Linked DNA regions of Homo sapiens: regions 2, 3, 4, 5, 6 and 7 are each reported to be linked to region 1. The links are microRNA targets in miRTarBase. Many come from high-throughput screens and were not tested one by one. Region 1 holds a microRNA gene; each other region holds the end of a gene's coding sequence.

Region 1 (4,066 bases):
CAGTCTTTTGCAGGGAAATTGGGTGATGGAGCCTGGGGGCCTTGAAACCACAAAGGTCGGGGAGGTGGGAAGTACCAGAGCCTCCCCACCACTGGTCCTTGGTTACTCCTTTTTCTCAGGGGTCACCGCCGCCGTGGGAAGCCTCCCAGCCCAACGCCCTGGAGTGGGTCCAATATGGTGAGTAGAAGGGGCAACATAAACCACTGGAACACAGCTGCCCCCATTTCCTGTGATTCCTTCCTGGGGATCAGGTGCAGAGGCGACTCTGAATGCCTTTGGCAATAGGGCTTTTTTAAGAGTGCGTCTCGCTCTTTCAGGCTGGGGTGCAGTGGGGCAATTGTAGCTCACGGCAGCTTTCAACTCCTGGACTCAAGAGACCCTCCCACCTCGGCCTATGGAGTAGCTGGGACTAGGCTTTTTTGGGGGGGCAGGGTGGGGTTGAGACAGGATAAGGGGGTGGTATTGTCTCTTTATGTTGCCCAGGCTGGTCTGGAACTCCTGGCCTCAAGCCATCCTCAGCCTCCTACAGCGCTGGAGTTACAGGCTGGGCCAGCGCACCTGGCCTGGGAACAGCACGTTTTGAGAGCATTAGATTGGAGAAGGAATAATGAGGGGCACGTGATGCTCTTTAGGGCTTTGGCTTCTGACTGTCAGGTCTTGAAACCTGTCTCCTCCTCTTCCCAGCTGTATGGTTCAAGGCAGTTCTTTAGCCTCTCTGTACCTTAGTTTTTGTTTATCAGTTAACCAGGGTTGGTAATGGCATCACCTCACATGTGAGGTGAGGGCTCTGTGAGGACATTAGGAGGTTATTTTGCAGATAATGAATGGCCAGTAGGTGTCAGGCCTTATTTTTCCCCAAGGTCCTTAGGCTCAGGATTTCCAGTGGGATTTAGGGGGACAGAAATAGAGGGACGGTGGGTGACCCCCTTTCCTACCTTCCCCATCACCAGAAGTCTCCCCCCGTGGAACGCAGCCACCATCAGAAATCTCTGGCCAACTCCGGGGGCTGGGTCCCCATCAAAGGTGAGCCTGGGACTCCACATCCCCTCTCCCAGCCCCAGGACCCGTTGGAATGGTAGTGCGGGCAGTGGTATATTGGGCCCAGGAACTCCCTGGGGCTTCAGGCCCCTCACAGCCCCCATACCCACACCTGCTCTCACAGAGTACAGCTCGGAGCACCAGGCGGCTGACATGGCCGAAATAGACGCACGCCTGAAGGCCTTGCAGGAGTACATGAACCGACTGGACATGCGGTCATAACGTGGAGAAGGGGTACTACCCCTCCATCCCCCACCCACTTGCTGGGTATGGTGTGGGGGGTGGGGCCAGGGTGGCCTCCAGCCCTGCCCAGTCCCTGCCCTGGCCCCGTCCCTCCTGCTGCCCCTGGGGTCTCAGGTGTGTGAGGCCCTGACCCTGCCCTCTCCCCAGGCAGTGCATGCTGGGAGGGAGGATGTGTGCATTTTGTAAATAAACATATTTGCCCTGGGGACCCCTCAGCTTATGACTAAAGGGTGAGGGTGGAGTGGGGAGAAATGTGGAGGAAGAGAAATTGGGGGGTATAATTGGGACCTGTGTGTCTGTGCCTCGGAGGCAGATTGGGACTCAGGCCTAGGAAAAGCTTGTACACTCTCTAAACAGTGCAAGGGCAGACCTGGGAGGAGTAGTGAGCAGCCCGTCCCTAAAGGAGTCCAAGCAAAGTTTCTGCGCAGGATGCCTTTGGCTGTGTGGTGGGAAGGAGGTGTCTTGCAGCGTGGTTCACTGCCCAGGAGGACCCCCAGGACCCACTGTTGGTGACATCCCGGCCGCCTTGGTGCTGATTCCTGGGCTCTGACCTGAGACCTCTGGGTTCTGAGCTGTGATGTTGCTCTCGAGCTGGGATCTCCGGGGTCTTGGTTCAGGGCCGGGGCCTCTGGGTTCCAAGCACCAGTGAGGAGAGTGCTGGGAGGGGAAGGGGTGGGAGGGCTTTGGTCTTGTGGGAGGGAGAGAAGGAGGGGAGGTGTGTGGTGGGACCTGCTGAGGAACACATTTTGAGCTACATCTTTATTGGAGAAGGAGACAGTGGGGTTTTTGGCCATGGGAGGGGAGGAATGGGGTGCGGATCAGCAGGGCCTCAGGGGGAGCGGTAGTGTGGCCAATTCTGGATGAGGTGGTAGAGCTGGTTGCCTGGAGAGAGTGTACGCTGCACATCCCGGTGTCCTTTGAGCACATAGTTGGACCTCAGGGCTCCCTGAGCCACACCGCAGGCCAGTAGACCCTGGGCTGCCCGGATGGCCTGGGGTGTGGGCACCCGATCTGGAGGAGGCAGAGGTAGGAGTCAGGCAGGGGCTTCCCCGAAGGGGAAGTGATAGCGTAGGGCCCCGTGTCAGCCCCCATCCCAACTGGCTGGACAGTCACTCACCCATGTAGTTGCCCATGAAGCTGATGCCAATGGACATGGGGTTCCATAAGTGACCTGAGTGGGCACCCGTGAAGTTCCAGCCACGGCCCTCGTATACGAGCCCGTCTTCTCCAATCAGGAAGCTGCATGGGGAGGTGGGGGGGCTTGATGAGTGAGGGAGGGTTTCCCGAGGAGGACTCCTCCTCCTTCCTCCACTCACCCTGCCTCCGTTACTGCCGTGGTGCACACAACTTCCCCAGCATCCTTCTCACCCGTTAATTTCCCACGATAGTAACAATGACTGTGGTCATTTATTGGGCCCCTGCCATGTGCCAAGCACAGCTCTGCATACACCTTTTTCCATCCTCACAGCAACCCTGTGAGTCACTATCACCCCCGTTTTATATAGACAGAATCAGAGCGGTAGAATCACCTGCCCCGGGGTCACACAGCCTGTCTGGGGCACAGCTGGGGTTTTTAACCAGGCCTCCATGGTCCCCACCCATGTGATCTTGTGCGTTGCTCTCTCCTGCCTCCCTAGAGGATTTGTGGAAGTCCTGTTTTACTGAATCCTTGCAGGACAGCCCTCTGAGGCAGAGACTTTTTTTTTTTTTTTTTTTTAAGACGGGGTTTCACTCTTGTTGCTCAGGCTGGAGTGCAGTGGCGTGATCTCAGCTCACCGCAACCTCTGCCTCCTGGGTTCAAGTGATTCTCGTGCCTCAGCCTCCTGAGTACCTGGGATTACAAGCATGAGCCACCACACCCGGCTAATTTTTGTATTATTAGTAGAGATGGGGTTTCACCATGTTGGCCAGGCTGGTCTCGAACTCCCGACCTCAGGTGATCTGCCCGCCTTTGGCCTCCCAAAGTGCTGGGATTACAAGCATGAGTCACCGTGCCCAGCCAAGGCAGGGACTCTTATCATCCTCATCTTAAGCAGAGAGAGCAGAGACTCAGAAAGCGACATAATTTGTACAAGCTACTCAGAGCCCCCTGCCTCTCAGAACTCTGCCTTTGCCCCAGCTTGCTTCCTGCCCTCGGGGTCCACTGGGGGACAGGATCACAGACTCAAAGTTGGGGTCGTAACCAGATACCGACCCTGGAGCCCCAGCACCTGCCTCTTTGAGGTTCCCAAGCCTGGCAGCAGATCCTTAAGGCTGATTCATTCAGCACATCTGATTGAGCGTGTCTGACTTGGCAAATGGGAATGAACTAGAAGATCAGTGCCTTGGAGCTGCAGTATGTGCCAACTCAGCCCCCGCGCTCACAGTGTCATTAATGACGCACAGAATGTCGGAACTTCCGAATCTTGAGTCCCGAATCTGCTGCTTAGGAAGCCAGCTCCCAGAATCTGGCCCCAGTGATGCTGGCTGCTGGGACTGGCTGGTTATGGCCCTGCTGGTGATGCTGGCTGCTGGGACTGGCTGGTTATGGCCCTGCCATATTCCCGGAGCCTGGCATGATGGTGCTGGGGTCGGGGGTGGTTGGTTCTCCCTGGTCATTTGTTGCATGAATGCATCTCATTGAAACCTCAGCCACCATCGCCAAGCGGGTACAGTCAGAAGCCCCATTTACAGGTGAAGAAACGAGGCTCAGAGAGAGAAGGTGACGTGACATGGAAAGGGGATTCAGAACGTTAGAACCAGATTCGGAATCCTAAAAGCTGAGGGCCAGACAGCGGCTGCTTCT
Region 2 (4,066 bases), not on the chromosome of region 1:
CATCCCAGTCTAAAATTTATTAGGTGTTCATGATGCCAGCACTGTTTAAGTCACTTTGTATCATTATCTCAGATAATCCTCATAATAGCCCATTGAGGTTGGCACTACACTGTATTATTCCTATGTAAGAAAACGAGGCTCTGAGAGATTAAGTAACTGGCCTGACATCCCATGGCCAGAAAGTGGTAAATGAAGACCTGAACTGTATTTGTGCGCAGCCGAGCGTTCTAGGCTCTTTCGCATTTGCAGCCAAAAATGCACTCTGCTGCCTCCTGGCAGTCCAGAGTCAGCATCCTGAAGTCAAGGATGGGTTTTTGGTTCATGGAGCAAGTCCCAAGTTGGGCTCTGAAGTCAGACAGTTTGAGACTGTGTCCTTGCTCTGCCATCATCTGTGGTTAACTTTCAAGCTTCAGTTTCCTTGGCTCTGAAATGGGGACAATCTACCTGCCTTATAGGGATATGGTGGAAATTACATGAGGGGATGTGTTTATCATCTTCCTTGCTGTGTCTAGCACACAGTAAATATTAAAAACATGTTGGGGCTGGGTGTGGTGGCTCACGCCTGTAATCCCAGCACTTGGGATGCCAAGGCATGAGGAGGCCAAGCCGAGGAGTTTGAGGCTAGCCTGGGCAACACAGTGAGACTTCATCTCTACAAAAAATAAAACAATAAATTTACAAAGCATGTTGGTGGAATGAATGAGTTAAAGCTGCCAGTGAAGCCAACTTTTACTTGGAAAAAACATCCTTTGTCCCTTTCAAACCCTCTTAAAACTCCACAAAGATGGGATTTTCTTTGGGAGAGGGTGAGTTTGATGCTGCACATGGGTGAAGAGACTGGAGGGAGTGGAGGTGGCAAGTCTTGGAGTTGTTTGCATCTCTCAGAGAGGTTATCCCAAAGAGATAATAAATAGATGGTGGGAGAAGAATATTTCATTTCATTTGGAAGGCATGGACATCTCCATTCCATCTAAGCACCCTGCTTGTCAGCCACAAAACTTAAAAATTAACTGGATACATTGCCACTGAGGGATAGACTAAATATTTGGTCGGCCAGTCATGCCATATCTGTGCCACTCTGAGTGTAGAGTAGACTGCTAAACATTGCTAAACTCATTGAGAGTGCTTTTTGGGTAAAGATGAGGTATAGGTACTTATATTTTGACAAATCACACAATGCCTCCCTGTCCTTGGGACTTTATCTCATTTCTCCATCTGGATTATTATATTTAGTTCAATGAGGCATGGATTTGGGCATGTTGATTTTGTGGACCTAATGGGTCAATATCTCATGTTTGTTTGGGTCCACAAACATCAGATATTGACCCAAAGTTTGTGAGATGTGGACCCAAACGTGATTGAGATAGCTAGAACAACGTGCTGTCATGTTGGCTCTACCAGCCCCAAAGGTCTGACACAATGGCAGTATTTTATGGGAGGAGTATGGTTTTGTTTTGTTTTATTAAGGTCTGGAAAAAGTCTGTGGACAATTCTGTTTGCCGAGTGTGTGAGTGGGTGTGTAAAAGATACATGTTTTGAATCCCAGGACTTTCAAGAACTATCTAGGGGAAAGGTCTAATTAGACATGCCCCTTCCTCCCTCCCTCCCTGCATCTTTTTCTTTTTCTTTCTCTTTCTTTCTTTCTTTCTTTCTTTCTTTCTTTCTTTCTTTCTTTCTTTCTTTCTTTCCTTCCTTCCTTCCTTCCTTCCTTCCTTCCTTTCCTTCCTTCCTTCCTTCCTTCCTTCCTTCCTTCCTTCCTTCCTTCCTTTCTTTCTTTCTTTCTTTCTTTCTTTCTTTCTTTCTTTCTTTCTTTCTTTCTTTCTTTCTTTCTCTTTCTCTCTCTCTCTTTCTTTCTCTCTCTCTCTCCTCTCTCTCTCTCCCTCTCTCTCTCTCTCTCTCTCTCTCTCTCCCCCTTCCTTCCTTCCCTCCTTCCTTTCTTTTTCTTTCTTTCTATGGCACCCAGCCTTAGTAGCAAATGTTATTTCTGCGTTAAAGTGCCCACATTGATGGGCATGCAATAAATGTTAAATCACAACAATTAAGTTTAATGAGAATTAATGGGTTGTCTCACAGCATTGCCTTGGCTTCCTGGGATGCCTCCTCTACCCTGATTACAAGGCTCTCCCTGGCTGGTCCTGCTCACGTCAGTTCCATCTTAGTGGGGTCATCTAATTTTGCCCCATTCTTCATCGCAGGCTCTGTCCTTCTTTCCTCACCCTGTCAGGGAATGTAAGGTTGCCCCACCCCTTGTCTCCTTTAGCCTCTTCCTGTGCTTTCCCTCAATCCTCTTTCACTCTTACTCTTATGCCTACTTTCTTTCCTCCACATTTTCTTTAACCCCTCCTCTTTCTCCTTCTCCTCTCCCCTGTTTTCTCCTCCAGCCTTCTTTGTCCTACCCTTTTTATAGCAGCTTTCCCCTAGGAAGCACTCCCACCCCAGCCTCGGGCTGCCATGTTCGCACTGGTGTTGTTGCCTTGTGAGTGAAATAGCTCATCTGCCCCAAGTGAGAAGAAAGCAGGGAAAGTCAGGAATATTGCAATGCAAACAATATATATCCAAATATAGATCCTAACCCCAACCCCATATAAAGTTGTTTTTTAGCATGTTGTGCTTTCTTTTTTTCTTTTTTCTTTTTTTAGACAGAATCTCACTCTGTCACCCAGGCTGGAGTGCAGTGGTGCAATCTTGGTTCACTGTAATCTCCGCCTCCCGGGTTCAAGCTATTTTCATGCCTCGGCCTCAAGAGTAGCTGGGATTACAGGTGTGCGCCATCATGCCTGGCTAATTTTTGTATTTTTAGTAGAGATGGGGTTTGATCATGTTGGCCAGGCTGGTCTCAAACTCCTGACCTCAAGTGGTCTGCCCACCTCGGCCTACCAAAGTGCCAGGATTATAGGCATGAGCCACTGCACCTGGCCCACGTTGTGCTTTCTTGAAGTCAGACTATATATCTAAACCCTAACCCCATATAAGATTGTTTGTAAGCACGCTGTGTTTTCTTGAAGTCAGACTGTAGAGCCAGGATGAATTAATTGTCCATAATGCCATACATGGCCCTATCCACAGCCACATGCTTTCTGCTTATCTATTGCATAGGATTATATGTGGGAAAATGGATCGAGAAGCTTAAAGTATGATAATCCTTTGATATTTGGTACTCAGTGATCTCTCTGACCTTCTTAAGTGGAGCATACTCAGGAAGCTGGCTCCTTCTAGTTTTATTGGGTTCTCAGAATGTTCAAAGTATCCACCTCACACCCCGCGCAGAAATCCTCCCTTTGCAGCCAGGATTATGACTTTACAGAGGGAAAAAGATATGGCAGCTACTAGTGGCCAGTGTACAGGCCCCAGAAGATGGCAGAAGTTGTTCTAATGCTTGTTGAGGATATTGTAAGGTCAAAGAAGCAACGCCAACAATCCCACCGTTGTCACACCCCTGCTGCAGCCCCCTTTAGGACACCATAGAAATTCTACACAGTAACACGGGGATGACAAGAGGCCACATACTCCATGCTGGGGCATAAAGTGGGCACGACAATTTTTCACTCCTTGGTCTGAGTAAGCGAGCTTTGTGGCATCAAATCATTATGTTTGTATGTTTGGAAGGCCACGCCATCTATCCTCCCACCCAGGGCAGGAATTTCTGCTCCCACTTTTGCTTTCCTGGAGGTGAAATAGGAAGAACAAGGACCCATGCTCAAGTCCCCAAAGAATGGCAGGATGCCCTCAGTGGAGGCAGACTGTATTTAAATGCAATTCACCTCTTTGGGGTCTAGGAAAAGCCACCCGTAGGTTCATTTGCTGGGAAACACGGTCTGCGTGCCTGAGGCAGTGGACACCAGGGTTGTGGCCTTGCCAAGAGCTGACTTTCTCCGGAGGTCTGTCTGCTGTCCGGAGTGGCAGCCACTTCGGTGGGCAAATAGGACGGTCATCTCTGGGCCCAAGGACGCTGCTTCAGGCTGGGACGCCTTGAGGGTGGCTGGCTGTTCAGGCTTTCCGGAGGTGGGATGGGAGGTGTAATGTTTGGTGGGAGGAGGGCTGTAATTCTGAAATCTCACGGTTTTGA
Region 3 (4,066 bases), not on the chromosome of region 1:
TTACTGTTAGAGAAAGGACATTCTGAATGCTTTAAATCCAGCTCCTCTTCCTTGACTCTTACTAGTTGGAGGGACAGGATCCACTAGAGGTAACAACTACAGACTTCTGAACACATTTTCAGTTGGTCTCCGTTGCCATGTGGGAGACCAAAAGTCTAACCAAGTGATTAGTAGCCATCCCAGTGATGTTCTTGACCATAAATTGAGAGCTCAGCACATTCCTGGCACCGAATTGCCATTCATTTATTACCTGATATCATTCTCACATTCACAAGCTTTATGAGCTCATTTTACAGGTGAGTGATTTGTTCAAGATCACACAGCTAATAATGGCAGAGCTGGGCTTTGGACTCTGGTCTGTGTGGCTCCAGACACCACCTTCTTTTTCATATTCCCCCACAGCCTCCTTGGAGGATGCCGAGAAACCTTTCAAATTTTGTTGCCTTTCTGGTTTTGTAGTTCTGCTGATGGAACAGCCAGCCATGAACAAGGTGAGGAAGAAGAAAGAGGAAGCGCTGAATTATCTGAACTGGAGAAGCAATAAAAATTAAAGTGAAGGAAAATACTGAACTCTGTCTGAGTGGGATGGTATGAGTTAGAGGAAGAATTCTCTTGCAAATTAATAATCGGTCATTAGAAACAATTGGTTAATGGGGGAGCCTAATTGGAGAATGATGCTGAGAATTTGTATTGATGAACCTCTTTTAGAAACTGCAGAGGGCTGGGCACGGTGGTTTATGGCTGTAATCTGCAAACTCTGGGAGGCTGAGGTGGGAGAATCGCTTAACCCCAGAAGTTTGAGTCCAGCCCAGGCAACACAGCAAGACCCCATCTCTATAAAAAGAAAAAATAAAGAAACTGCAGCGCCTTAGACCTGAGGTGTCATATCTTTGACAGTGGGCTGGCAGACGTTTGCTTTGAGTTCCTTCTCTCCCATCTGGATCTCCCAGCCTTTTCCAAATTGAAAAATGCCAGATCAACACAAACCTTACCCCACCCCCACCTCCGAGTCACACGTGCAGAACTGTTGATACACCATTTGGCTTCAGCAGATATTACTTCCATACTACGTATTAGGTTGCTGCAAAAGTAATTGTGGTTTTTGCAGTTACTTTTGCAGTGGCCTAATAGAAATATTTCTTCCCTACTCTTTCCTCATCTCTTCCCAAACTCTCTGCTATTCCCTGTTCACAGCTGGCTGTGGGGGCCTTTGAGGACTCCAGATCATATCCCTCTAGGCAGGGAACAGATCCTCTTGAGCTGGGCTTTCTGAGTGGGCTTTCTTGAGTGGGCTTTCTGAAGATTACAGCAGCACTCTGACTTCCATGGCCCTTTGAAAGTCCTGAGCCTCAGAACCTGCCCAGGCCCTAGCAATGTGTCCCTCACAGCTCCATCTGTGACCTGAGCTTCAGAACACATCTGCAGAGCACAGAGACCTTGCCGTGCTTCTCCCATGATAATTATTGGCTTGCTTTTTTTGTTTGTTTGTTTTGTTTTGTTTTGTTTTTTTAGAGGCTGGAATGCAGTGGTGTGATCTTGGCTCACTGCAATTTCCACCTCCCAGGTTCAAGCAATTCTCCTGCCTCAGCCTCCTAAGTAGCTGGGACTACAGGCATAAGCCACCAAACCCGGCTAATTTTTTGTATTTTTAGTAGAGACGGGTTTTCGCCCTGTTGGCCAGGCTAGTCTCAAATTCCTGGGCTCAAGTGATCCACCCTCCTCGGCCTCCCAGAGTGCTGGGATTATAGGTGTGAGCCACTGCACCTGGCCTCGGCTTGCTTTTGATGCTGACAGGAACTTTCAGCAAAGCTGGAAACTTCTAGAAAAGCCTTGGGGAAGCTGTTGGGGCAACTATAACCCAAGTTCCTCATATACCCTGGATATCATTTACTCTAGAATTGGTTACTGTCTTCTTCCTTCCATCCATAAGTGCCTTCTCCTGTAGATGAAGCCCGGAAATAAACTAGGTACAGGAGTCTTCCACCTTCTTTGACTTTTATTTATTTTTATTTATTTATTTATTTTTGAGACAGGGTCTCTCTCTGTCACCCAGACTGGAGTGCAGCGGTGCAATCTTGGCTCACCGCAACCTCTGCCTCCCAGGCTCAAGTGATCCTCCTGCCTCAGCCTCTTGAGTAGCTGGGATTACAGGCACGCACAACTACCACCTGGCTAGTTTTTGTATTTTTATTAGAGACAGGGTTTCACCATGTTGGCCAGGCTAGTCTTGAATTCCTGACCTCAAATGATCCGCCCACTTTGGCCTCCCAAAGTGCTGGGATTACAAGCATAAGCCACTGTGCCCGGCCCCATCTTTGACTTTTTTTTTTTTTTTCTGAGACAGAGTTTCACTCTTGTTGCCCAGGGTGGAGTGAAATGGCACGATTTTGGCTCACTGCAACCTCCACCTCCTGAGTTCAAGAGATTCTCCTGCCTCAGCCTCCTGAGTAGCTGGGATTACAGGTGCCCACCACCACACCCGGCTAATTTTTTTTGTATTTTTAGTAGAAATGGGGTTTCACCATGTCGGCCAGGCTGGTCTCGAACTCCTGATCTCAGGTGATCCACCCACCTTGGCCTCCCAAAATGCTGGGATTGCAGGCGTGAGCCACCGCGCCTGGCCTGTCTCTGACTTTTAAACAGTTAGATTTGGGGTGAATCCCTTTCTTGGAAAGATCGAAAATCCTCTCACAGATGATACAACACAAAGAGCTCATAAATGGCAGAGCCAGGACAGAAACCCAGGTCTTCTGCTTCCTGTCATTGTGCTATAAGAGATCCAGAGCTATACACAGCGCTCAGCCCTTACCTTCCAGGAAGTCACAGCCTGGCAGGGAAAGAAACCATAGGCACAGATTTCCACACCAGACGGGATGCGATAAATGCCACATACATCTGAGGGACCAACATTATCCACAGACGTGCAGGGGGATGTTGCTGAGAAACCCAGATGTTTCTTAAACTTTAATATAGGTGAGAATTCACTGGGCATTGTGCTGAAATGCAGATTCCAATTCAATGGGTCTGGGGTGGGCCTTGAGATTGTTCAATTCTTTCTTTCTTTTTTTCTTTTTCTTTTTTTTTTTTTTTAAGACAGGGTCTCACTCTGTTGCCCAGACTGGAGTGCAGTAATGCCATCATGGCTCACTGCAGACTTGACCTTCTAGGCTCAGGCGATCCTTCCACCTCAGCTGCTGGAGTAGCTGAGACTATAGGCATGCACCACCACGCCTGGCTAATTTTTTATTTTTTATAGAGATGGGGTCTCCCTATGTAGTCGAGGCTGGTCTCAAACTCCTGGGCTCAAGCAATCCTCCTGCCTCAGCCTCCCAAAGCGCTGGGATTATAGGCATGAGCCACCGCACCCAGCTGATTTTTCATTTCTAACCCCAATGCAGCTGGTCCACAGACCACACTTTGAGTAGGAAGGCCTTAGATGTCCAGATTTTTCTCTGTATTATGTAATCCTCCATCCAAATGTCTAGAAACCAAAAGCAGAACAAAAAGCAACCACTGTCAATTTAATAAGGCCAATAAAGGTTACTTTCGGGTGAGTTTTTTGTTTTGTTTGGTTTTGTTTTGAGACAGAGTCTTGCTCTGTCGCCCAGGCTGGCGCAATCTCGGCTCACTGCAACCTCCACCTCCCGGGTTCAAGACATTCTCCTGCCTCAGCCTCCCAAGTACTAGAACCCCAGTACTGGAACCACCACACCCGGCTAATTTTTGTGCTTTTAATAGAGATGGGGTTTCACCATGTTGGCCAGGCTGGTCTCAAACTCCTGACCTCAGGTGATCCGCCCGTCTCAGCCTCCCAAAGTGCTAGGATTACAGGTGTGAACCACCACGCCTGGCCTTGAGTGAGGTTTTTTTTTTTGAGACAGAGTCTTGCACTGTCGCCCAGGCTGGAGTACAGCGGTGTGATCTCGGCTCACTGTAACCTCCACCTCCCGGGTTCAAGCAATTCTCCTGCCTCAGCCTCCTGGGTAGTTGAGATTACAGGCACCTGCCACCACGCCTGGTTAATTTTTTTTTTTTTTTGTATTTTTGTATTTTTAGTAGAGACGGG
Region 4 (4,066 bases), not on the chromosome of region 1:
CTTCCTATAGCGCCCAGTAGAACTGACAGTACCTGTCTCTGTGGCGCAATCGGTTAGCGCATTCGGCTGTTAACCGAAAGGTTGGTGGTTCGAGCCCACCCAGGGACGCTTGTTTGAGCTTTTAAAGTATTCATGCATTGTCAATCACTAGATAAATGGGGAAGATTTTATCTTCCTGGAGTCCTAAGCCACTAATTTGTGACTTATCCATGTCAAGGGCCAGACCACCTCCCCGACCGGATTCTTAACCGGGTATCTCCTGAAATCCTGGGTTTATATGTGTGTAACTCAGGAATCCTGAAACAGAGACCTAGGAACCCACTTCTGGTGTGATAAAATTCTAATTCAGTCCGTTATACGCTTAAACGAGTAATTTACATGCCTCCATTTTTTCATATGTTAATAATAGGAGGTCAGTAATATCCCGAGGATGTGCCTGGATTTACTGATTGCTCTATCAATAATGTGACCAGTGGAATCATTCATCATCATAGTGATCCTCTCCATCATTTTTGAAGAGTATTTTTCCTCAGTTTGTGCATGATTTATTTAACCCTTTTCAAAATGTTTTTGTTAGCCAGGCATGGTGGCATGTGCCTGTAATCCCAGGTACTTGGGATTCTGAGGCAGGAGAATCATTTGAACCTGGGAGGTGGAGGCTGCAGTGGAGGCTGCACCAGTGGAGGCTGCACCACTACACTCCCGCCTGGGCAACAGAGCGAGACTCCATCTCAAAAAAAAAATAAAAATAAAAAAATAAAGTTTTTGAGATGAGGTAGGTTTCATTGTTTTAGGATTACAAAGAATGCTGCAGCCACCTTTGTTGTACACATATCTGGTCATTGTGGAAATGTCTACACCGCAGATATTTCTATAGTGTAGGGAAGTTGATGCACTATCGCTACATTATAGGCTTTACATGATGCTTCTAATTTGAGTACATTCTGCAAATGTATCTTTCACGGGAGCCGTACCAAATAATATTCCAATAGCAATATTTATAGGAGGAAAAATGTGCAGAAGTGCAATTGAGCTTCGTGCCTCTCCATGGGGTCCATGTTCATAAAATGGTGGCATTAGCAATCATCTGAGAGTGGAGTTTGTGGCCCTCTGACATCAAAAGCTGAAGCAGAGGACATGAAAACCCTCACTGTGCATCCTCTCTAGTCTGGCCAGAATCATTCCTAGGTCGGTGGTCTCTTATCAGGAGGGAATGCTGCTTGCTTGTTTTGTCAAAATCACAAAACTGAGGGAAAGCATCAGGCCGTTGGTTGGTAACAGTGGTGAAGCAAGTCTTTCCAAAGGGCTGGTTTGTTGTTAACCCTTAGGGAAAAAAAAAGCCTTTTTTTTTTTTTTTTGAGACGGAGTCTCTCTCTGTCCCCCAGGCTGGAGTGCAGTGGCGCGATCTCGGCTCACTGCAAGCTCCGCCTCCCGGGTTCAGGCCATTCTCCTGCCTCAGCCTCCCGAGTAGCTGGGACTACAGGCGCCCGCCACCACGCCCGGCTAATTTTTTTTATTTTTAGTAGAGATGGGGTTTTACCGTGTTAGCCAGGATGGTCTCGATTTCCTGACCTCGTGATCCGCCCGCCTTGGCCTCGCAAAGTGCTGGGATTACAGGCATAAGCCACCGCGCCCGGCCAAAAAAGCCTAATTCTTACCAGCTGGTGCCGTGCAGTACCAGGCTCTTGGTGTCCCAAACAAAGACACCAAGAGCCTGGAACTGCACCAAAAACCAAAACCAAGGTAGGGGCAAGATGATAATCACAGAATGTCAACGGTATATGTTTAGGTTCAAATACTATTATGAGAAGGGGCAGGTAAAGGAGGTAGGAAAAAGAAAACACATCATGTAATTGACTGTTGTATGGAAATATTTGATGCTGAAAGTTATAATTTAAAACTATAAACCAAATATTAGAAGTGTGTCTAGTTCAAAGGGAGGAAAACCATCAAAAACATTTTTAGTGCAATATTTAACATGAGCTATACAACCCTTCCTAAATGCCAAAGGCACACACAGACACACACGCAGACACACAGACACACACACACTCACACTCACGAAGAATACAAATGACTAGAACCAAGAAATGTAAATACATTCTGCTACGTATGGTAAACATAGCCTACAATGTGGAAGAGATTAGAAAATAAACATGGAAATGAAATGTTTTTATTAATTCGCATCAGTACCCACCAAAACCAATCAGCATAATCAAATATTATAACACTGAATGTAAAAAACAATCCAGAAGTCCAGAGTGATAGGCAAAAGGTTTTAATTGTATAGATTAAAATTAACTTTGGACAAAAATTAAAACTCAGGCAGAGAATGTTTTCTTCTTTTTGCAACAGCAGACACTAGTAAAAACAAAGGCACAGTAAAAATTGAGACCCAAAATTTGCAGTGTAGAGATATGAATATAATAATAGACACAGGCAGGGAGGATTAATAAATGATAAAATGTTTAGAGGATGATCATTAGAATACAGGATATTTATACTCTTGAAAACCGCTTTCCCAAGTACTTCATTATAAGTAAGGTGTCTCTAAAAGGGACAGATCTCCTAGACCCCTCCTTAACCAAGTAACCAGTCCTGATATCATAATGGTGATGGACAAACTAGACCTTCTCTGCCCGCAGATGGGCTGAGGTTGGAAACTCACAGCATTGTCTCTGCAGTGTTCCCGGCAAAATGTTTAGGCTGAATTTAATCATGAAGACATTTTCAGACAACTTCAGAATGTAGATCATTGAGCCAGACAGCTGACCTGTCCTCTATAAACAAGTCCATGTCACCACCATCCATGACAACAACAAAAAGATGAGGAAATATTTGGGGTTCAAAATAACTAAAGAAATGCAGCTACATTATCTTTTTACTTTTTTTGAACCCAAAATATCTCTTCTCCTTTTTGTTGTGTGATTTGTGGTGATATGGACTATGTGAAGGAGACAGGTCAGTTGTCCTGCTCAGTGTTCTACATTCTGCAGTTGTCTGGTGATTACCTCCTATGAAACTCAGGCTAAGTGTTTTCTGCAAGAACATGGCATTGTTCATATTCTGCACCGGCAGAGTCCTGGGTGACATGCTGTCTCCTGCCAGCGGCTCCTGACTCCTGTTCTCTACAGGATGGAATTGAGAGGAGCAGGGCTAAGGCCTCCCAATGCTGTTTGTCCATCTAGCTGTGGTCTTCCTAAGTACTGACACCAATTGGAGGCTGAAGGACTGTGGCTTCTCTAACCAAAGGAGCCTAGCGGGTTAACAATTGTCAAGAGCAGTTGGTGGTTCTGAAATACAATCCTCAGCCAAGGATCCCTCCTGTGTTACAGATGGATCAGCTAAAACAAGCCAACACTGAAGACACAAAGAATGAGGTTAGGTTCATTGAAACCAGGGTAACACCTTTGGATGAGCTAAACACAAAGATGACAATGACCTTGAGCAGGTATAGAAGCTCAGAGACATGCCTGCAAAATGAAATCCCTGAGGAATTTTGTAGCTACCCAGAGATACGTGGTTCAAATTAAAATGTCTGACTGATCACTCCCGGCATGTTCTGCACAGTTATGTGAACGTGTCACACCTAACATGGGTCCATTGTCTTCAGATTGAGCACAGGTTGCCAATGGCATGGTTTGAGAATAGGAATAGAGCCATGCTCACTGACCCATCCTATGTCTGGGCTTCCAAATGGAACTGTACTTTCATTCAAATCTTCTCGTGCCTATAGGTCCTGCCTGCAGGAATGACATCTCTCGGCTTAGTAAGAGCTGCTTATTGTGGGAATATGACTCCCATCTGGAACACCAGGTGGAGACTTGTCACCGTCAAAGTAAAAAACCTATTGTCCACGTAAAGGGCGAAGCTGATATGCTCTTCCTCAAATGAGTAAAACACACTTCTGTAGTGCTGGAATGAGTCAGGTTGTTCAAAGTACATTGACGGAGTCGAATAACATCTATCCAGTGAGTCCTGTAAGACTTCAGGCTCTTCCACTTCCATCAGCACGCCGTAGAGCCTGGAAAAGGAGACAAAACTAAAGAAGCAGCCAGGGAAAATC
Region 5 (4,066 bases), not on the chromosome of region 1:
CCAGCTGCTAGGGAGGCTGAGGCAGGAGAATTGCTTGAACCCAGAGGGCGGAGATTGCAGTGAACTGAGATCGTGCCACTGCACTGCACTCCAGCCTGGGTGACAGAGCGAGACTCCATCTCAAAAATAATAATAATAATAAATAAGATAAAATGTACTGAAGCCTATTCAATAATTTTCATAGTTTCTTAAGAGTTTGGATGGGGGTTGGGGAATATACATTTTCCAGTAAAGTTTGAGGTTATTACCTGGGTATATGTGGTTCTGCATATTAATGACAGAATACACCAACTTGGCTTATATATTTGTGTGGGAAGAAAAGGAATAGGAAAATTTTTCCTGAAATAAGTAAACGTATTGTCAAATTAGGGGTTACTTTGAGATCTCTTATAAAAGTAGTTCCTTAAGCCTTAAGCCTGACATGACATTCTGTGGTGGCCTGGGATGAAGGTCATATCATTTTTTTCCACGTTTTCCCCCTCTGTCTTGAACGTAGTTTCTGTTGTGAGATTATGGTACATGGATGCTAATCAGTAGATCCATATATTACCTGAAGGAAAACTTCCTTGGCATTTCTGCACATGGAGAGTGTATAAATGGTAGTTTGGTGGTAAATTCATAACTCTTTTTTTGTTCTTTTGTCAGGGTATGGGATGATGGGATCATTGATCCAGCAGACACCAGACTGGTCTTGGGTCTCAGTTTTAGTGCAGCCCTCAACGCACCAATAGAGAAGACTGACTTCGGTATCTTCAGGATGTAACTGGAATAAAGGATGTTTTCTGTTGGACATGTACTGAAAATTAACACATGTAGTAGCCTTAAAATTTTAGACTTCTCGAACATGAGGCTGTTACAGTAATTTTTTTAACACTGTGCATTGTACTTTTCTACCTTAAAAAAATCAGTGAGGATATTTATTTAATGAACATCAATTCCTTTTAAATTTTCTTAGAGAAATTTCTCTGTGGCTCAGTTTTACCACCCATAAAGCGGAGACAGTAATTTACGGTTATCCTTTCTGACCCACAAAGTATGAAAAGTTCTGTAATCTGTAAACTCAGTTCTGTAATCTGTATTATTGAGATGATTAATATAAAGTTGTATTTTCACTGAAATGATTGTTTTGCTGGTTATGCTTGGTGATATTTTAGCGGGCTTATTTTTGAAAGGCATCTGTTACTTCAGTGGCATAAAGTGCCCTCACACTGCTGTGCAGCCATCACCACCATTCATCTCCAGAATTTGTTCTCAGTCCCAAACTGAAACTATACCATTCAAACAACAGCGCTCCCCATTTCCCCCTCCCCCGAGCCCATGACATCTCCTTATTATTATTTTTTTTTTGAGACAGGGTGTTTCTCTGTTGCCCAGGCTGGAGTGCGGTGGTGTGATCTCGGCTCACTGCAGCTTCCACCTCCCGGGTTCAAGCGATTCTTGTGCCTCAGCCTCCCAAGCAGCTGGGACTATAGGCACGCACCACCACACCCAGCTAAGTTCTGTATTTTTAGCAGAGACGGGATTTCACTAGGTTGCCCAGGCTGGTCTCAAACTACTGACCTCAAGTGATCCACCCGCCTCGGCCTCCCAAAGTGCTGGGATTACAGGTGTGAGCCACCGCGCCTGACCACATCTCCTTATTCTTAAATGTATGTGTTTCTCATGGTTTGATTTATTCTTGCTGGGCCATTTCAGCCCCTGTCATGGCTTCACTCGCCATCTAAATGCAGATGATTACTGCCTTGACGGTTCTTAACCCAGCTCTCCCCTGAGCTGCAGGCCTGCATATCCAGTAGGTCTACTGGACATCTGTACTGGTTGTTGTGGAGGAACCTCTGGCTTGCTCATTAAGTCCTACTGATTTTCACTATCCCCTGAATTTCCCCACTTATTTTTGTCTTTCACTATCGCAGGCCTTAGAAGAGGTCTACCTGCCTCCAGTCTTACCTAGTCCAGTCTACCCCCTGGAGTTAGAATGGCCATCCTGAAGTGAAAAGTAATGTCAGATTACTCCCTTCAGTGATTTCTTGTAGAAGTGCCAATCCCTGAATGCCACCAAGATCTTAATCTTCACATCTTTAATCTTATCTCTTTGACTCCTCTTTACACCGGAGAACGGCTCCAGCTGTTCTAGCTCTCTTTCAGTTCTTTGAACCTTCCCACCTTAGGGTCTATAAGGTTCCCTCTGCCCAAATTGTTCTACTCTCCCTTCTTCTTCAACACATCCTTCAGTTTAAGCACTTGCTTCTCTCAGTTTAAACTCCACTTCCTTAGGGATGTCTCTGTGACCTCCCTGTGCTGGATTAGCTTCCCTACTCTATGCTCTTGTAAAACACTATCTACTTCCTTTGTCATAAACTCATCATTTTCCTATAAACATTAATATTGTCCTCCTGCTAGAATGTAAGCTCCGTGAGAGCAAGGATCCTCCTGTTTACCCTGTACCTCCAATGTCTGGCACTTGTAGGTGCTCAAATATTCGTTGAATGAATGAAAAATCCATATTGTAATTGATGTCCTCTGGCCACATAGTTTTAAAATTAGGTGATTGATTATATGACCGAATAGAACTATCAAATGTTTTCCTAATAAAGTCAATATTTCAAACATTTGTGTGTGATATTTAGTATTTTAAACATTTGTGTGTGATGTTCAATGTGTACCAGGAAGTCAATTTAGTTTTTGTGGGGAGAATATAGATAGATGATCAAATTCAGTGGTAGGTTACATTTTCAGAAGCAATACATTAAGTATATTAAAATAGTAATATTAAAATTTTAATGAAAATGCACATCTATGTCAAAATGATTTTCTATATAAAGACTAGGTAATATTCCTTTGGTAGGAACCATTAACAAGTCAAGGATTCATGGATATTTTAGGACTGCTTTTGCTTTTCTGGGAAGAAACTGTCCATCAATAAAACCACATTTAAGTGAATTGGATTTTTTAAAACTTATTTTTCTAGAGGCAGGGTCTTGCTATGTTGCCCAGGCTGGACTCGAACTCCTAGGCTCAAGCAATCCTCCTGCTTCAGCCTCCCAAGTAGCTGGGACTACAAGCTTGCACCACTACGCCTTGCTCTATTTTGTATATTTTACCCAACAATAAACATTTATAATTGTCTTACCAAAATAGGTAATACTTTTTAAACATTTTGACTATCATAAATATGAATTCCAGCAAGGATAATATGAGCTACTTGGAATTTGAAGAAATATACAAGTTAGTCTCTAAATTTGCCCCTGTTGGTACTTAAAGAATGAAAAAGACAAGATTACTTCTATTTTTCAGTTTATAAGAAAAGTATTTTCAAATCGAATTTGTTAAAAAAAAAAAAACACTTCTGCACCAGCAGAAGGCACTATTGAGTGTTTGAGTGACACCATCATTTGCCAACATGCTTATGTGTATGTCTCTCCAGAGAGAGGCCATATGTTTCCTTCACAGGGATAAATCAAAGCAGGTTTTGGAATGATACATTAATAAGATTATTTTTGAGAGGCCACATTAGTTCTAAAATGCATTGAGTTTGGTTTTATGGAAGATTAAATCTCCACTAAGAGTCTTGGCGATTTTTTTTTTCTTAGTGATCTTCTAATGATTGGTTCTGAAGTTTCATATATGGAAAAATGGCAAGAAGATGAACTAGGTTATCATAGCCTAGTGTCATTCATAACATTTCCCTTAAAATGTTACAATTAAGTACAATTAATATTTAATGATGACATAGATTTTAATCATTTTCGACAAAACGTTTTGTGCCTTTCCACTAAACGCTTAAAAATAGTTTGTTTCAGCGGGGCACCCTGGCTTAACACCTGTAATCCCAGCACTTTAGGAGGGTGAGGCAGGAGGATTGCTTGAGCCCAGTGGTTGGAGAACAGCCTGGGCAACATAGCAAGACCCTGTCTCTACTTAATAAATAAATAAATAGGTAAATAAATAAATAGTGCTTTTATTTTATGTGCTTCAAATTCTCTTGTATCTGGAATCAGGATCCTGAGGACTAAGTTTTTCTTAGGGATGAATGAAATTTCTATGCCCCTTTTACCTTTCTAGGCAA
Region 6 (4,062 bases), not on the chromosome of region 1:
CTTTCTTTCCTTTTCTTGTGTTTCATAAAAGAGCAATTTCATATAAATACCTATTCTTAGGTATTTATATAGTAAATTTGAGGGACAAGGGAAGTTGAAGTACTGATCAAGATTGGGATGAGACAGAACCTCATTTGTCATTTAGATAGGGAAATGTTAAGTATAACCTAAGAATATGTATTTAAATGAAATTGCTCTTTTAATTTTAGAGTGACAAGGGGACTTGTTTAGCCAAAATCACTTGCTTTTTGAATACCTAGTATGTGCTAGGCACTGTCCTAGGAACTGAGATGAAGTTGATAAGCATTGTCCCCGCCCTCATGAGGCTTACATGAAGCTAGAACAGAGAGACCTTAAACGGATGACAATAAACACACAGGCTCAATAAACTCTACAGTAACTTCGGTGAGAAAACTTCATGAAGGAAAAGTACAGAATGCTATGAGAGGGTATAAAAGGGTCCTCCTCAAAGGTAGGAGTAAGGGTTGGAGAGGTTTCCTCAAGAAAGTAAAAGGCAAGCTATTCCAGAAGGAAGGATGGTAGCTACCCTGGTAAAAGTGAGGGGAGGTATTATAGATTGAGAGGATTGTGCATGCCAAACTCCTTGTTGGACTACTGCTAGACAAGGAGAAAAGAGGGTAAACAAGTTATAATTTAATTAAAACCGAGCAGGGTGGCTCATGCCTGTAATCCCAACACTTTGGAGGCTGAGGCGGGCTGATGACCTGAGATCAGGATTTCAAGACCACCCTGGCCAACATGGTGAAATCCCATCTCTACAAAAATACAAAAACTAGCTGGGCATGCTGGTAGGTGCCTGTACTCCCAGGTACTCGGGAGGCTGAGGCGGGAGAGTCGCTTGAAACTGGGAGGCAGAGGTTGCAGTGAGCTGAGGTCATGTCATTGGAGTCCAGCCTGGGCAACAGAGCAAGACTCGGTCTCAAAAAAAAAAAAAATGACATCTACCATGAACCAGGTTATTGAATTTAGAACAGTATCTGACAGCCTGAAGATCAGGATAACTTGTTAATTCATTAATTCATGCATTAATGCTACATTGGGGATGCAGCGGTAGATATAATATGGTTAATGTTCTGGGAGAGCTAGAGTGGATGAAGAAACCTATAAACAAATAAGAGCAATGCAGTTTTTTTGTTGTAATTCAGATAATGAGATGTCATGAGAATATCAAATCGGAAGCCATGAGCTCTGCCAAGGAGCTGGTATTACTTGAGCTGAGTTCTTAAGGATGAATAAGCCTCTTCTTATATGCAGGTAGTGGCCCTAGCAAATCCAAAGTCATGGGCCTAGGAAAGAACATGCCCAGTTAGGGAACTGAACACCTGACTATAGTGAATTTGAGGGACAAGGGAAGTTAAAGTGCTGATCAGGAATGGGATGAGACAGAAAGAAGGTCATCTGTCATGCTTAGAAACCTTTATTTTATGTTTAGGAAACAATTTAGATAGGGAAGAATTTAGATAGGGAAATATTTGTGTTTTCTAAAGACCCCAGAAGCCATTGGTGCTGTGAAGGGATAACTAGAAGGGAACTGAACTTGGAGAAAGGTTGAGCCAAGGAAATGGTATTGGGGAATGAGGGCCTTCTCTGCCAGTCAGAGAGGAGCAGAGTTAGTGTTTTAAATTACATAGAATTAAAGATAAGTAAAATGTATTGTAACAGTATAGGAAGGAGAAACAATATGAGTGAAGTTTAGAAATCTTTTAATGTTTATTCAAAGGACAAAATAAAGACTATGAACCAATGAGACACATAGTAAAAAAGTACAATTTTAATATAGTGAATGTAATATATATGTAATTACTCATAACAAAATGGTCAAAACCTTTAAAAGATACACAATAGGCATCTAAAAAGCTCAGCAATGCTAAATATATAATATATATTATATATAAATATATAATATATAAATACATACGTTTTTACCAAGAAATGTTTTATTTTTCTTGCAGTAGCTTTGTTAATTGCACAAAATTATGTTTTGTTTTTGCCATTTAAATATTATCACAGAATCCTATTCTGAAAGACAAATGTTCATTAAAAACAAAGCAAAAATAGAAATTCACAACCATTAATTACCTAGGTTTGTCATTTAAAGGTTTAAAGAAAAAAAGGGAGGAGCTTTCCTACAAGCCTTTTCACAAGTGTCACATTTTCTCTTTAAAAGGGAAGGATTTCCAAACAAAGGTGAAATAGCTTAAACAGAAATATTTGTAAAAATAAACTTTACAGCATTATCAAGGATATTAAGACAACACTGACTAACCGGTTTCATTACCGCATCTTCCCCCACCCCCAACCCCAGTGTGTCCCACCAGGACTAGAACAGGCTTTACATTCAGACAGAAATGCTTCAAAATCCCAGTGAAATGAACTGTGCTAAAAACCCGACAGGCATCTTCCCTGCCCTCCCCGCTCCCGCTCGTCTTCTGCAATCCTCTAACCCAGGTTCTACTCTGTGAAAGGGGCCAAAGCTGTGAGTGGGGAGGGAACTTGCCCCAGCGTGGCCACCTTATATATAATTATATATTCTACCATAAATGCTGGCCTTCTTCAAATTATGATTTTGGAAAATCTAACCCATACAGAGGGATAAAAAATTGACATCCCTTGGACAACTTCTCCTTGTTTTTTTTTGTTTTGTTTTGTTTTTAACATTCCAAGCTCTCTCTGGTCCCCTATCCAAGGAGAAATGCTAGGGCCTCGAGGATGTCGCTATATATTTTTATAACTAAATGATAAATTTATATTCAAATTGTTTGAATACGTTTCCAAAACTTTCAGAGTACAAGTCATTGTTAAGTTTGCCTTTACTTTAAAAACTAAAAGAATACATTTCTATATAAACTAGCAGTCAGGAATTTGCCTGTTTTCTAGCTTCTTCATCTATCTAAAATATATATTTAGCTACCAGAATTATGGTACTCCTAATAAAATACTTAATAAATAGCATATAAAATCAAAGTTTAAAAGTAAATGATGGCAGTTTGCCATACTAAAAAGATAAAGAATGTCTAAAATTATAGGAAGATAAGATATTAGCCCTCATAGAACTTAAACTTTTAGAAATTCTGAATAAGGAAATATATTCTACATAGATAAGGTGTGAAACACTCAGCTTTCTAAAGTGAAATAATTAAATAGTATCCCACAATCAAGAGTAAGGAAATTCTCTAACATATTCCCCAAGAAACATTAAAATATTTCCTATTTCTTATAAAAGTGAAGATAACAGTGTATTTCCATCAACAGAATTCTTATGAAACATCATTTCCACATTAAATCCACAGCCTTCTCAGTTAATATCTTAAGGAATATTTCTTGGAAATATAATAGTCACCTACAATTCAAGACACTTTGAAAGATTAACAGCCAGTGATTCCTGGCTCACACTATAGTCAATTGCCAAAACTTCAATAGCATAGCAGATAAAATAACAGCAAATAGCAGAGGTACTATGCTAAACACTTCATTAGCTGAGCTGAAAGCTTAAGCGGCAAACATAGGTTTTCCTCACACTCTTCAAAGTGAGGAATCCAGGAAGAAAGCTAACTACTGGAAAAACAAATAAACAAACAACAACAAAATCTTTCCTTCTTGTCTTCCCTGGGTTCAGAGACCTCCAGAAAACTTCTCTGCTGAAGACTGGGAAACTTTTCCATGCGTGCTCATTTCTCTTAATCAGTTTTCCTTGTTTCCACTGTTGAGAAAAATGTTATATTAGTTTAACCATTTTTCACACTCCTTTCTACTCCACCCTTGTCAAAACTCAGCGTTTATGATGTTTGGTAAAAAAGGAGAATACAAAAATCAATAAAAGCAATGGGTAAACAAAAAACATAACTTAGTGACAAGCTGTGTGTAATTGCTCAAGTAATTACATGTAAGATTGGTATATTTTCCCAGGACAATCCAGAAAAACTTTCCCAATTCAACAACCTTTTAATTCTAAACATGAAAAGTGTTACTTAAATCGTACAGAGAATAAAGACCTTGTGAAGTCTATGGTCTCCCTAGATCAGATTTAGAAACCACAAAGAT
Region 7 (4,058 bases), not on the chromosome of region 1:
GGCTGTCTTCGGAGAGGAGAATGCGCTGGAGGCATAGAAGCGAGGTCCTTCAAGGGCCCACTTTGGAGACCAACGTAACTGGGCACTAGTCCCAGCTCTGTCTCCTTTTTAGCTCCTCTCTGTGCCTCGGTCCAGCTGCACAACGGGGCATGGCCTGGCGGGGCAGGGGTGTTGGTTGAGAGTGTACTGGAAATGCTAGGCCACTGCACCTCCGCGGACAGGTGTCACCCAGGGCTCACCCCTGATAGGCTGGGGCGCTGGGAGGCCAGCCCTCAACCCTTCTGTCTCACCCTCCAGCCTAAAGCTCCTTGACAACTGGGACAGCGTGACCTCCACCTTCAGCAAGCTGCGCGAACAGCTCGGCCCTGTGACCCAGGAGTTCTGGGATAACCTGGAAAAGGAGACAGAGGGCCTGAGGCAGGAGATGAGCAAGGATCTGGAGGAGGTGAAGGCCAAGGTGCAGCCCTACCTGGACGACTTCCAGAAGAAGTGGCAGGAGGAGATGGAGCTCTACCGCCAGAAGGTGGAGCCGCTGCGCGCAGAGCTCCAAGAGGGCGCGCGCCAGAAGCTGCACGAGCTGCAAGAGAAGCTGAGCCCACTGGGCGAGGAGATGCGCGACCGCGCGCGCGCCCATGTGGACGCGCTGCGCACGCATCTGGCCCCCTACAGCGACGAGCTGCGCCAGCGCTTGGCCGCGCGCCTTGAGGCTCTCAAGGAGAACGGCGGCGCCAGACTGGCCGAGTACCACGCCAAGGCCACCGAGCATCTGAGCACGCTCAGCGAGAAGGCCAAGCCCGCGCTCGAGGACCTCCGCCAAGGCCTGCTGCCCGTGCTGGAGAGCTTCAAGGTCAGCTTCCTGAGCGCTCTCGAGGAGTACACTAAGAAGCTCAACACCCAGTGAGGCGCCCGCCGCCGCCCCCCTTCCCGGTGCTCAGAATAAACGTTTCCAAAGTGGGAAGCAGCTTCTTTCTTTTGGGAGAATAGAGGGGGGTGCGGGGACATCCGGGGGAGCCCGGGTGGGGCCTTTGGCCCTGGAGCAGGGACTTCCTGCCGGATCTCAACAACTCCGTGCCCAGACTGGACGTCTTAGGGCCAAGATCGACGTTGGAGGACCTGCTGGACGCCTGGCTGCTTACGAGTGAGGGAGTAGAGTCTGCCTTAGCAAGGCTCAAGTAGAAAGGAAGTCACAGCGGACCAGGCAAAGCCACAGACAATCCAAGGCCAGGTGCCCTGAAAGGGGCTCAAACAAGGCCTGCAGCCCTGTCTGAGGCGGGCCAGGAAACAGGGTTGCTTTAGCTGGGAGCAGTGGGTTCCCCGTCCCCAGAGGTGTGTCCGTATAGAGCCTTCTCCAGCCCAGCCGCTGTCAGCGGGGCGGGACGGAGCGGGGCGGCCTCAGGGAGCCAGCCACTGGGATTGGGGTTTGGTCCCGGGTGCAAGTGAAGCGCTTGGAGTTTGCGCCTGTCCTCCTTTACTAATTCAAAAACCTCTCAAACAGACACTTCCCTTTTCTTCTCACAAGGCCAGTATCCCCCTCCCACTACTCCCATCCCGCCCAGAAACAGCCGCGGCTTCCTCAGGCACAGCAGTGGAAGCCAGTCCTCCACCCCCTGCGGCTCCATGCCATGCCACCCCCTCTTTCTGCCAGCCCTGGCAGAAGCTGGCCTGAGTAAGAAAATTCACCACCACCTCTTGCAGGTACATTTTTATTTCCAAGATGCTCTCATATCTGTGCTCTCACTGCATCCTCCCTTCCCCACATCCTGGCTAGATTGCCATCAGACGCAGAGCATGGATGAGGACACTGAAGCCTGGACCTGTGACGTCGCTTGCCCAGTGAACAGCAGGATGGGCTAGGCCGCGCTTTTTAGACCCTGCACCCCTGGCCATCCATGATTATTGAAAAGAGTGCGCGGGTCGGGTGCGGTGGCTCAAGCCTGTAATCCCAGCACTTTGGGAGGCTGAGGTGGGCGTATCACTTCAGGCCAGGAGTTTGAGACCAGCCTGGCCAATATGGTGAAACCCTGTCTCTACTAAAAATACAAAAAAAATCAGCTGGGCATGGTGGCTTGCACCCGTAATCCCAGCTACTAGGAAGGCTGAGGCAGGAGAATCGCTTGAACCTGGGAGGCAGAGGTCACAGTGAGCCGAAATCATGCCACTGCACTCCAGCCTGGGCGACGGAGCAAGACTCCAGCTAAAAAAAAAAAAAAAAAAAAAAGAGTGTGTGGCCTGGCACTCAAGTTCACATGGGTGTGCAGGCATGCCTGTGTATTCTCACATGACCTCCCTGCTCACGGTCCCTCCTTGCACTCATGTCTGAATGTCCCCGCGTGCACGCACATGGCTTCACAGATCTGGGCAGTGCCTTCCCTACCCTCTCTCTGCAGGGCCTTTTGCCCCCTCATGCAGGCCCCTGGATAATCGGCCCCATCCCCATGTCCCCATCTCCAGTGTATCTTAGCTACCCTAGGTAAAGGAGTGGGCTTTTTAGTTCCTAACCTTCCAGAGCTACAACAGCAGTCATCCAGCCAGGTCTGGGTGGGAACATTTTCTAGATACGGGTGCTGAGATCTCTCAGCCCAGAGAGAAGCCCTGGGGAATTTTCAGAGAGAAAGCAGTCTCCAGGTGGGGCTGGATGTACTGATGCCACTGAGATCTGTAAAGGAGTCCCTAACACCTGACATAGGAGTGACAAAACTGTTTTCTGCACCAACTGAGCAGAATACACGCAGCTGACCTGGGCTCAAGGTCTGGCCCTGCCACGTGCTGGCTCTGTGATGCTGGCCAAGTGCCTTCGCCTCTCCGGGCCACAGTTTTTTGATCTGAAGAGTGGAGCCCTACTCAAGCCATCTGCAGCTCTCGGGCTCTCTGACCTGACATCTTTCGGGTGGTGGGGACACAAAGGAAGCAGCCTCTATTGGGAGACCTTGTGCTTCTTTTTGGTCCCAGGACACTGCCCCCCACCACTCCAGTCCGGGTCCCAAGGGCCCAGTCAGCTCAACTGTAATCATGACAACATTGATCAAGCATCTTTACGTGCAGGTGCTGTGCCAAACGGTTCGAACGCTCTCTCATTTCAATCTCACGGCAAACCTACGGTGGAGGGGGTACGGTTGTATCCACTTTACATGTAAGAAACTGAGGCTGATATCAAGTGGTGGAGCCAAGAATAGTGCCTCGTTGCATCTTACTCCAACCTCTAGCCCATCCGGCCTCCTCCCTTCACGTGCGCCTAAGAGGGCTAGGGGGCCTGGATAGGGGAGGTCAGCTCCACAGTTTTGAGTAAACACACACAGTCTCAACTCTGATGACAACTTAAGTGCCAGGCATAGTGGCTGGCATGGGGCACACACTCAAGTCATGTTGTGCAGCACCTAACAGTTTATCAAAGTATCAGCAAACTTATTGTCCTGTTTGACCTTCCGCACAAAGCTGTCAAGGAAGGCAGGGTACGGAGGGTGATTCCTACCTTAGAGATGAAGAAACTGAGGCCCAGAGACTGCCCAGCTACCAGAAGGTGGATAGAGCGCTGGCCTCCATGCCTGCCTGACCTGGAGTCTGTCCAGTGCCCACCCACAGAACAGCCTCGGCCCTTTCCCATGCCCAGACACAGATGGCACACTTGCGACGGCCCACTCATAGCAGCTTCTTGTCCAGCTTTATTGGGAGGCCAGCATGCCTGGAGGGGGGCCAGGCATGAGGTGGGGTAGGAGAGCACTGAGAATACTGTCCCTTTTAAGCAACCTACAGGGGCAGCCCTGGAGATTGCAGGACCCAAGGAGCTCGCAGGATGGATAGGCAGGTGGACTTGGGGTATTGAGGTCTCAGGCAGCCACGGCTGAAGTTGGTCTGACCTCAGGGTCCAAATCCCAGAACTCAGAGAACTTGTCCTTAACGGTGCTCCAGTAGTCTTTCAGGGAACTGAAGCCATCGGTCACCCAGCCCCTAAATCAGTCAGGGGAAGCAACAGAGCAGGGCATGAGAACTCCTCTGTAGGCAACCATGGGACCCACACCCATGTCCCCACTGGACGACACCAGTCAGGACCACACCACCCT

The links. Region 1 holds the annotated microRNA hsa-miR-769-5p (UGAGACCUCUGGGUUCUGAGCU, at 1,834-1,855, shown strand). A microRNA usually pairs through its seed, bases 2 to 8, with sites in the 3' UTR of a target mRNA and lowers its output. Matches are read on the target gene's strand: a 7mer-m8 pairs with bases 2 to 8, a 7mer-A1 pairs with bases 2 to 7 and ends in A, and an 8mer does both.
Region 2: the mRNA of SH3RF2 is a reported target of hsa-miR-769-5p. The part of its 3' UTR that is shown has no 7-base or 8-base seed match.
Region 3: the mRNA of TCEA3 is a reported target of hsa-miR-769-5p. The part of its 3' UTR that is shown has no 7-base or 8-base seed match.
Region 4: miRTarBase lists NBPF15 as a target of hsa-miR-769-5p. Seed matches in the 3' UTR shown: 7mer-A1 at 2,390-2,396.
Region 5: miRTarBase lists MCCC2 as a target of hsa-miR-769-5p. Seed matches in the 3' UTR shown: 7mer-A1 at 1,544-1,550.
Region 6: miRTarBase lists CXCL5 as a target of hsa-miR-769-5p. Seed matches in the 3' UTR shown: 7mer-m8 at 3,637-3,643.
Region 7: miRTarBase lists APOC3 as a target of hsa-miR-769-5p. The part of its 3' UTR that is shown has no 7-base or 8-base seed match.

Annotation. Positions count from the first base shown.
Region 1 is chr19:46,017,128-46,021,193 of GRCh38, forward strand. MIR769 (microRNA 769) reads left to right here and starts at 1,805; the gene lies at 1,805-1,922. CCDC61 (coiled-coil domain containing 61) reads left to right here. Exons shown (of 14, transcript NM_001267723.2): 12 at 120-177; 13 at 951-1,023; 14 at 1,163-1,489. The coding sequence ends at 1,260. PGLYRP1 (peptidoglycan recognition protein 1) reads right to left here. Exons shown (of 3, transcript NM_005091.3): 2 at 2,399-2,520; 3 at 2,026-2,292. The coding sequence ends at 2,111.
Region 2 is chr5:146,062,430-146,066,495 of GRCh38, reverse strand. It overlaps SH3RF2 (SH3 domain containing ring finger 2), which reads right to left. Exons shown (of 10, transcript NM_152550.4): 10 at 3,204-4,066. The coding sequence ends at 3,795. All of the region lies in intron 1 of LOC107986458 (a long non-coding RNA gene), which reads left to right. Among named protein-coding and RNA genes, the nearest start is that of PLAC8L1, 41 kb to the left of the region's middle.
Region 3 is chr1:23,377,868-23,381,933 of GRCh38, reverse strand. It overlaps TCEA3 (transcription elongation factor A3), which reads left to right. Exons shown (of 11, transcript NM_003196.3): 11 at 460-1,025. The coding sequence ends at 468. Among named protein-coding and RNA genes, the nearest start is that of ZNF436, 10 kb to the right of the region's middle. RefSeq lists an enhancer at 3,680-3,749.
Region 4 is chr1:144,419,233-144,423,298 of GRCh38, forward strand. NBPF15 (NBPF member 15) reads right to left here. Exons shown (of 22, transcript NM_001385408.1): 22 at 2,158-4,024. The coding sequence ends at 3,781. TRN-GTT3-1 (tRNA-Asn (anticodon GTT) 3-1) reads left to right here and starts at 35; the gene lies at 35-108. RefSeq lists a silencer at 84-143.
Region 5 is chr5:71,656,098-71,660,163 of GRCh38, forward strand. It overlaps MCCC2 (methylcrotonyl-CoA carboxylase subunit 2), which reads left to right. Exons shown (of 17, transcript NM_022132.5): 17 at 646-2,609. The coding sequence ends at 763. Among named protein-coding and RNA genes, the nearest start is that of CARTPT, 61 kb to the right of the region's middle.
Region 6 is chr4:73,993,935-73,997,996 of GRCh38, forward strand. It overlaps CXCL5 (C-X-C motif chemokine ligand 5), which reads right to left. Exons shown (of 4, transcript NM_002994.5): 4 at 1,708-3,721. The coding sequence ends at 3,703. Among named protein-coding and RNA genes, the nearest start is that of CXCL5, 2.7 kb to the right of the region's middle.
Region 7 is chr11:116,832,651-116,836,708 of GRCh38, reverse strand. It overlaps APOC3 (apolipoprotein C3), which reads right to left. Exons shown (of 4, transcript NM_000040.3): 4 at 3,637-3,945. The coding sequence ends at 3,825. APOA1 (apolipoprotein A1) reads left to right here. Exons shown (of 4, transcript NM_000039.3): 4 at 298-958. The coding sequence ends at 901. It also overlaps APOA1-AS. Among named protein-coding and RNA genes, the nearest start is that of APOA1, 2.9 kb to the left of the region's middle.